2 linked regions of the Homo sapiens genome follow. The protein of the gene in region 1 interacts with the protein of each later gene in a pairwise test. Each region holds a gene or a part of one and is shown on either strand. Other genes may lie near its edges.

Region 1 (3,746 bases):
GTGGTCTCGGCTCACTGCAACCTCCACCTCCCAGGTTCAAGCGATTCTCCTGCCTCAGCCTTCCAAGTAGCTAGGATTACAGGCATGCGCCACCACGCCCAGCTAATTTTTGTACTTTTAGTAGAGACGGGGTTTCACCATGTTAGCCAGGCTGGTCTTGAACTCCTGACTTCAAGTGATCGGCCCACATTGGCCTCCCGAAGTGCTGGGATTATAGGCATGAGCCACCACACCCGGCCAGAACAGCAGCTCTTAAACTTGGCTGCCATTAGAACCATCTGGGAGCTCTTCAGAATCCTTTCACCCAGGGCAACACCCCCCAGACAAGTTAAATCAGAATTTCTGGGAGTGGGAACCAGACATCCACTTGTTTCAAAAGTGATTCTGATGTGCATAAAGTGTTGAGAATCAGAGAATTAAGGAGGTACTGGGCGTAAGTGGAGATAGCTAAATAAGTGAAGCTACTGCTTTAAGAAGTTTAGCAGGAGAGGAAAACACAAAAAGCCAGGGGCCAGTGGAGAGAGGAAGAGTTGCTGGTAGAGAGATGGGACCACTAATGGTGGTGGAGGAAGAGGCCAGGATCTAGGCAGGACTGATGACTTTCTTATTCAAAAAGGGGAGAATCACCTGGAGGCAGAAAGAACAATGAGTACTGGCCCCACACCAGAGTTTATGGTTCAGTAGGTCTGCAGTGGAGCCCAATAACTTGTATTTCTAACAGTTACCAGGTGATGCTGATGGTGGGCGTGGGGGGTGGGGACACACTTTAAGAGCTACAGGAATCCGGGGAAGGGAAATATGCAGAAAAACTTTTGAGGAAGAGAAAAAAATCCCTTTCTGCTCTTGCCACTGATGTGAAGAGTTCCATTTTTAGGTCCAATGAGAGCCGCCCAAGCTTTGGTCAATGCATTTGTCACCCTGGAAGTACCATCCTTTAGACTTTCAGAGGAGCTTTAAAAATTGGGATACCCAGGTCCCATCCTTCATTATATCAGAATTCCTTGGGTTGGGGCCTCTTCCTTGGAACGCTTAAAGCTCCCCATGTGACTCTCATTGTGGAGGTGCCCATGGGAAGGCCTGCACAGGTGAATTACAACGGGATCTTGAGTTCCAGGTGGGATGCCTCTGAGAATCACCTTCTGGGGCTCTTGAACAACTGCCCCGGCTGGTACAGATATATCTTCCGGTTGAGAACCACTTTTCAGGGGCCACCCCTGGGTCAGGGACAGATGTCAGCTTCAGAAGGGAGTGTCTCCTCTGACAGCCCCTCGTCTCCCTCCACAGACTTCTGGCAGTTTTTTTTTTTTTTTCTTGGTTGAAATTTCTACTTTTCACTGGAAGTAGGAGAGGAGCTGAAGTTGCTGCAGGCAGCCAAGTGCCATGGTCAGAGAGGGAACACAAATAAACGAGGTAGTGAGTGGCAAAAGGACCCGGAGTCTGCATGTAGACGAGACGGGGGTTGGGAGAACGTGAGACTTCCCGGAAAAGCAGAAGCCCTCTGAGATGAGTGGCCTGGAGTCTCCTTGGAGGCTGTGGGCGAAAGTGGACAATATTTGTACAGAAGGAGTTACGACTCCCACTTTACTGACAAGGATTTCCGCGCAGAGAGTTCAGTTTGAAGGAGAAGATCCCTGGTGTATGTATATCCAGGTCGCCTTAATAACGATCTACGAGTAACTGAATTTTAATCATGAAAGCGCTGAATACAGCCAGGTAAAATCGAGGGCAATGTCTGGGGCCTTCCAGCCATAGACGCTTCTCTTTTTTCCCCCCTCTCTGGTTAGTTCCTCTTCCCTTTTCTTGTCTGCACCGCGTTCATGCCGGACTCCGCGGGGCCCGGTGCGGGTGGAAGCGGAGCGCGGCAGGGCAGGTGCGGGCGCCGGGGCGCACCTGTGCCTGCGCGCGCGCGGCGTCCAGCAGGGGGCGGCCCGCGCCGGTCCCGGAGCTCCTCTCTGAGCGCCCCGCCCCCGGCCCGGAGGCCCAGGTGGCAGCGGGGGCGCGGGAGGGCGCGTCGGGCCGGGCACCGGCAGGGCTCAGAGGCGCGGCGGCGCACGGGCCGTCCGCTCTGACGCGAGCGGGTCCTCCCTCCTCGCCGGCCCTCGCCTCCTCCCCACACCTGGGAGGGGAGTGGTGCGGCGCGGCCTCCTCCCCCGGCGCTCGCAACTCCTGTCCGGCCGTAGCTGCGCCGCCGCGGCGGGAGTAAAGGTCGCGCCGCCGGGAGCGAGCCGGCCGCGGCGCCTGCGGGAAGCCGGCGGGGCAGGTCGGAGAAGAGCGAGAAGATCGAGAAACTCCAGGCCAGCCCGGGAACATGGCGCCAGGCGGGCCAGCCGCGGACTGAGAGCCGCGGGGCAGCCAGGAGCCGGGGCCCGAGCCCCGCCCGGCCCGGGCCATGTCGGTGGGCGAGCTCTACAGCCAGGTGAGCGCGGCCGCGAGGGAGGCGCCCCGGGGCCGGGGTGGCGCGCTCGGGGCCACCTAGTACTCAGGGTCGCCTTCTCCCTCGGCTACTGGAGGCGGGAGGTGACGGGAGACCCCCCTCCGCGGTGTCCTCCTCGTCACTGTCCTCGGAGTCCCTAACTTCGGTTGGCGGAGAAAGTTTGGCGGTTCCGGGAACGCCCGCACTGACCGGCCACCCGGCTCCTAGAGGTTCCGCAGCGCCACGGCTCAGCACCAAGCCAGGGCTGTCGCCCCCTCCCCGCCGCGCCCCTCACTTTCGTTGCCTGGGCTCGGCTCCAACCGAGTTCCCCGAACGGCAGGGCGACCCTGCCAGCTCTGAGCGCCGTGCGCGGGACGGGCCCCCGCGGTGCTCCCGCTGCTGTCCCCTGTCCCCGCCGTGGACCCCACCCCAGGGGCTCTGCGGCGCCGGCTCTCGAGGGCGCGCCTCCGAGGCGTCCTTTCCTCCCGCATACCCACAACAGGGAACCCTGGACTTGGGAGAGGTGGGGGTTCTGGACTTGGTGGAGAGGGAGGAGACAACCTGGCGTGAGGGCGCGGCGGCTGGATGGAGTGAGGGTAAGCAATGGGTAGAGGGGTGCGCCGTTATCTCCGGAGACCCCAGGGAAGAGCATTGTGAATTTGCTGGGGATGGATGTTTTGACGCGGCCTCTTTGGTACAAAGAGGGCTTCAGTGACTGCGGGGAGGGGGTTGGAGTAAAGTCGAACCGGGAGCAGGGTGTGAGTTTCAGGATGCCTTCAAGGTCAGAAGGGATGTGTGAGGCTGGGTGCTCCGAATCGGGAACAGGTGCAGCCCGGGCGGAGACGCCCGCGTTCCGCAGCAGTTGCTGTGGTTAAAGTTAGGGACAAGCCACCGCTTCCAGGGGAGCTCGCGGCAGCGCTGCAGCCGCCCGGGACCCCTCGAGTTTCAACCTGGAGTCAGTAGTGAGAGGGGCAAAGGCCTTTTCTTCACATGTGCCCTATGCACCTTTAAGAAAACAAGTTTTGGATAGTCCAATGCCTGGTTTTCCTGTTCGTCTTCTTGGGTGGCCAAAACACGTTTAACAGTGCCTATGCACACGCCTCCATGCAGAGTTGTGTGTGCGTGTGGTGTCCACGCGCGTTGCGTGGGTATGCGATTCCCGGGACACCCGCCCGGGCCAACAGGTCTGGGCTGGGTAGGAACAGTCACTTCCGCGTCCTTACCTGGCGATCACACGCGGCTGTCTAGCCCATGTGGGAGCCCTTCGGCTCCGTGGGCTGGCCACCCTTCTAAGTTTGAGGAATTATTCAACTCTCCCATTCCTCCTGGAGGG
Region 2 (3,746 bases), on another chromosome or scaffold:
ACCAAGTGCAGTGAGGACCTAGCTCAGGCCACTCCGCCTTGCCGCTGCCCCTGCCCAGCCAGCATCCCAGCCTTCCTCCTCCCTCAGCTTCCCTCCTCACTGGTGCCCACACCTGGTCCCACACGCCTCCTGTCCTCCCACCTGGGCCTGGCCTCCATTCCCTGCAAAGGCTTCCCAGCCATCAGGACCCACTCAGCTGCCTTTTTCTGGACCCCTCCCAAGCCCCCCAGCCATTCCCACCACCGTCTTGAGATCCTCTGGGCTCCCTCCCATCTCCTTCATCCCTCAGGTACATCTGTCTCTCTGTCACCTCCTCTTGTTTTTTTTTTTTTGAGATGGAGTTTCACTCTTGTCGCCCAGGCTGGAGTGCGATGGCACGATCTCGGCTCACTGCAACCTCCGCCTCCTGGGTTCAAGCGATTCTCCTGCCTCAGCCTCCCAAGTAGCTGGGATTATAGGCACATGCCGCCATACCAGGCTAATTTTGTATTTTTAGTAGAGATGGGGTTTCTCCACATTGGTCAGGCTGGTCTCAAACTCCCGCCCTCAGGTGATCCACCCTCTCGGCTTCCCAAAGTGCTGAGATTACAGGTGGCGTGAGCCACCGTGCCTGGCTGTCGCCTCCTCTTTTTTGGAGACAGACAGGGTCTTGCTCTGTCGCCCAGGCTGGAGTGCAGTGCCACAATTGCAGCTCACTGCCCCCTTGACCTCCCAGGCTCAAGCGATTCTCCTGCCTCAGCCTCCTGAGTAGCTGGGGCTACAGGCCTGTGCCACCATGCCTGGCTAATTTAATTAATTAATTTATTTATTTTTTAGTTTTAGTTTTTGAGACAGAGTCTCACTCTGTCGCCCAGGCTGGAGTGCAGTGGCGCAGTCTCAGCTCACTGCAAGCTCTGCCTCCCAGGTTCACGCCATTCTCCTGCCTCAGCCTCCTGAGCAGCTGGGACTACAGGCGCCCACCACCACGCCTGGCTAATTTTTTGTATTTTTAGTAGAGATGGGGTTTCACCGCATTAGCCAGGATGGTCTCGATCTCCTGACCTCATGATCTGCCCGCCTCGGCCTCCCAAAGTGCTGGGATTACAGGCGTGAGCGACCCTGCCTGGCCTATTTATTTATTTTTTTGAGATAGAGTCTCACTCTGTCATCCAGACTGAAGTGCAGTGTCACAATCTCGGCTCACTGCAACCTCCGCCCCCCGCCCCCCAGGGTTCAAGCAATTCTCCTGCCTTAGCCTCCCGAGTAGCTGGGATTACAGGCGCCTGCCACCACGCCTGGCTAATTTTTGTATTTTTAGTAGAGATGGGGTTTCACCATCTTGGCCAGGCTGATCTTGAATTCCTGACCTCGTGATCCACCTGCCTCGGCTTCCCAAAGTGCTGGGATTACAGGCATGAGCCACGACCCCCGGCCAATTTTTGTGTTTTTCTAGTAGAGATGGGGTATCGCCATGTTGCCCAGGCTGGTCTGAAACTCCCAGCCTCAAGTGATCCACCCGCCTCAGCCTCCCAAAGTGCTGGGATTACAGGCATGAGCCACCATGCCCAGCCCCTTCTTCCCTTTTTTTGATGACCTCACGGTATCTTCTATTTCCAGCTCCCAAACTCCCTCCTCAGACCCCCACATTTCAGAGCTGGATCCAGGGAGCAGCGCTGGGGCCTCCAGACACACACCCTTCCCTTGAGGCCACAATGACTGCCCCTTGGCTCGGCCCTGGACGACCCACCCTGGGCGTGATGTGTGCTGTTATCCCGTGAGGCTGCCGCTGCCCATGGTTGTCCTCCAGAGAGGCTCATGGGCCCCTGACCCTGCAGGTACTACCGTGGTGCAGTGGGCGCCCTGCTGGTGTACGACATCGCCAAGCACCTGACCTATGAGAACGTGGAGCGCTGGCTGAAGGAGCTGCGGGACCACGCAGACAGCAACATCGTCATCATGCTGGTGGGCAACAAGAGTGACCTGCGCCACCTGCGGGCTGTGCCCACTGACGAGGCCCGCGCCTTCGCAGGTGAGCAGACGGAGACGCAGGCATCAGAGAGGTGTCTGGAAGGCAGGAGGCCCCTCACAGTGTTGGGGCCCTGGCCACAGCCCTGGCTTCCCTTCCCTGAGGAGTGGCCTTGGGATGGGCCAGGTGGGTGGGCGGGGTCCCTGAGAGCATGTGGGAGCCTGTCACCCTGCCTCCCCACTCACCTAGGCAGTATTCTTTGTTCCAGAAAAGAACAACTTGTCCTTCATCGAGACCTCAGCCTTGGATTCCACTAACGTAGAGGAAGCATTCAAGAACATCCTCACAGGTGGCCGGGGACCAGATGGGTGTGGGTAGGGCACCAGCCAGGCAGGGTGGAACACGGCCTCTGAACCTTCGCTTGTTTTGTTCGTTTGCTTGTTTTTTTCTTTTTTTTGTCGGGGCAGGATGGATTTTTGCTCTTTGCCCAGGCTGGAGTGTGGTGGCTCGATCTCAGCTTACTGCAACCTCCGCCTTCCAGGTTCAGGCAATTCTCCTGCCTCAGCCTCCCGAGTAGCTGGGATTACAGGTGCCTGCCACCACACCCGCTAATTTTTGTAATTTTTAGTAGAGACAGGATTTCACAATGTTGTCCAGGTTGATCTCGAACTCCTGGGCTCAAGTGATCCTCCTGCCTCAGCCTCCCAAAGTGCTGGGATTACAGGCGTGAGCCACTGCACCTGGCCTGTTTGATTTTTTTCCACCACCACCCCTAACCTTTGCTTTTTAAACCTGCCGGTCCACCTGGACACTTCACAGGGTCAGACCAGGTCTAGCCCTTGCTGGCACTGGGGACACAGAGACCCCCTGGCCCCAGTTCCTGGGGATGGGCCCTGCCTTAACTCTTGGCGCTGCGGGGAGGCGGGTAGCCTCAGGGACCTGGAGCCTTTTGGCTTCTGGGAGTTTACCTCTGAGGGAGGAGGGCGCTTCTGATCTTAGGGAGCGAGAGGCCGGGGCTGGCTGTGACCAGATGTGGGTCCTGGCTGGGTGCGCAGCCCCTGTCCTTGTTACCCCTGATGTGATGGGGGCGCTGTGGGGGTCTGGAGAGGGCCTCTGGAGTCCTGCAGGGAGGGGTTCCCCTCGGCAGGCAGGGCACGTGCTGGCTCACCCCACGTCCCCCTGTACCCCCTTTGCAGAGATCTACCGCATCGTGTCACAGAAACAGATCGCAGACCGCGCTGCCCACGACGAGTCCCCGGGGAACAACGTGGTGGACATCAGCGTGCCGCCCACCACGGACGGACAGAAGCCCAACAAGCTGCAGTGCTGCCAGAACCTGTGACCCCTGCGCCTCCACCCAGCGTGCGTGCACGTCCTCCGCCCGCCCCCGCCACGGTATCCTCTGGCCCCTCCCTGCTGTCCCTCTGTGGCCGGCTCGTTCCAGCCCTCCCAGTGAGCTCTGCACGGCCGGGCCGGGGCCCAGGAAGGACAGGAGCCAGTGCTACCCCGTCCTGCCCGGGGAAAAGCTAGAAGCCCCGGTTTGCTGCACCCATGAAACTCGGGTCCCCACAGCGTCTTGGCGGGGTGGGGAGGGCGGCAGGATGGACGGGGCTGGCCAGAGGCGAGGAGGACGGGCGGACGGCGCCGCCTTCTCCCCTTTTCCTTGGCCGACTCTAGGGAGCGATTGCCTCCCTCCCTCCGTGACCGGGTGGCCCAGCCAGCCCGTCGTCCCCACCCAGAACCGTGCTCTGGGCCAAAGCCCGAAGAACCAGGCAGCGGGGGCCGGGGCAGGCGGACCCCC

The links. The genes of interacting proteins can lie anywhere in the genome.
Region 2: the proteins of MYO5B (region 1) and RAB11B interact in binary tests that used the Homo sapiens proteins (3 or more experiments, as listed by UniProt).

Annotation. Positions count from the first base shown.
Region 1 is NC_000018.10:50,193,437-50,197,182, reverse strand, and holds the start of MYO5B (unconventional myosin-Vb), read left to right. Parts: upstream 1-2,035; 5' UTR 2,036-2,389; coding exon 2,390-2,416; intron 2,417-3,746. UniProt on the Homo sapiens protein: May be involved in vesicular trafficking via its association with the CART complex. The CART complex is necessary for efficient transferrin receptor recycling but not for EGFR degradation.
Region 2 is NC_000019.10:8,400,272-8,404,017, forward strand, and holds part of RAB11B (ras-related protein Rab-11B), read left to right. Parts: intron 1-1,814; coding exon 1,815-2,008; intron 2,009-2,213; coding exon 2,214-2,294; intron 2,295-3,141; coding exon 3,142-3,287; 3' UTR 3,288-3,746. UniProt on the Homo sapiens protein: The small GTPases Rab are key regulators of intracellular membrane trafficking, from the formation of transport vesicles to their fusion with membranes.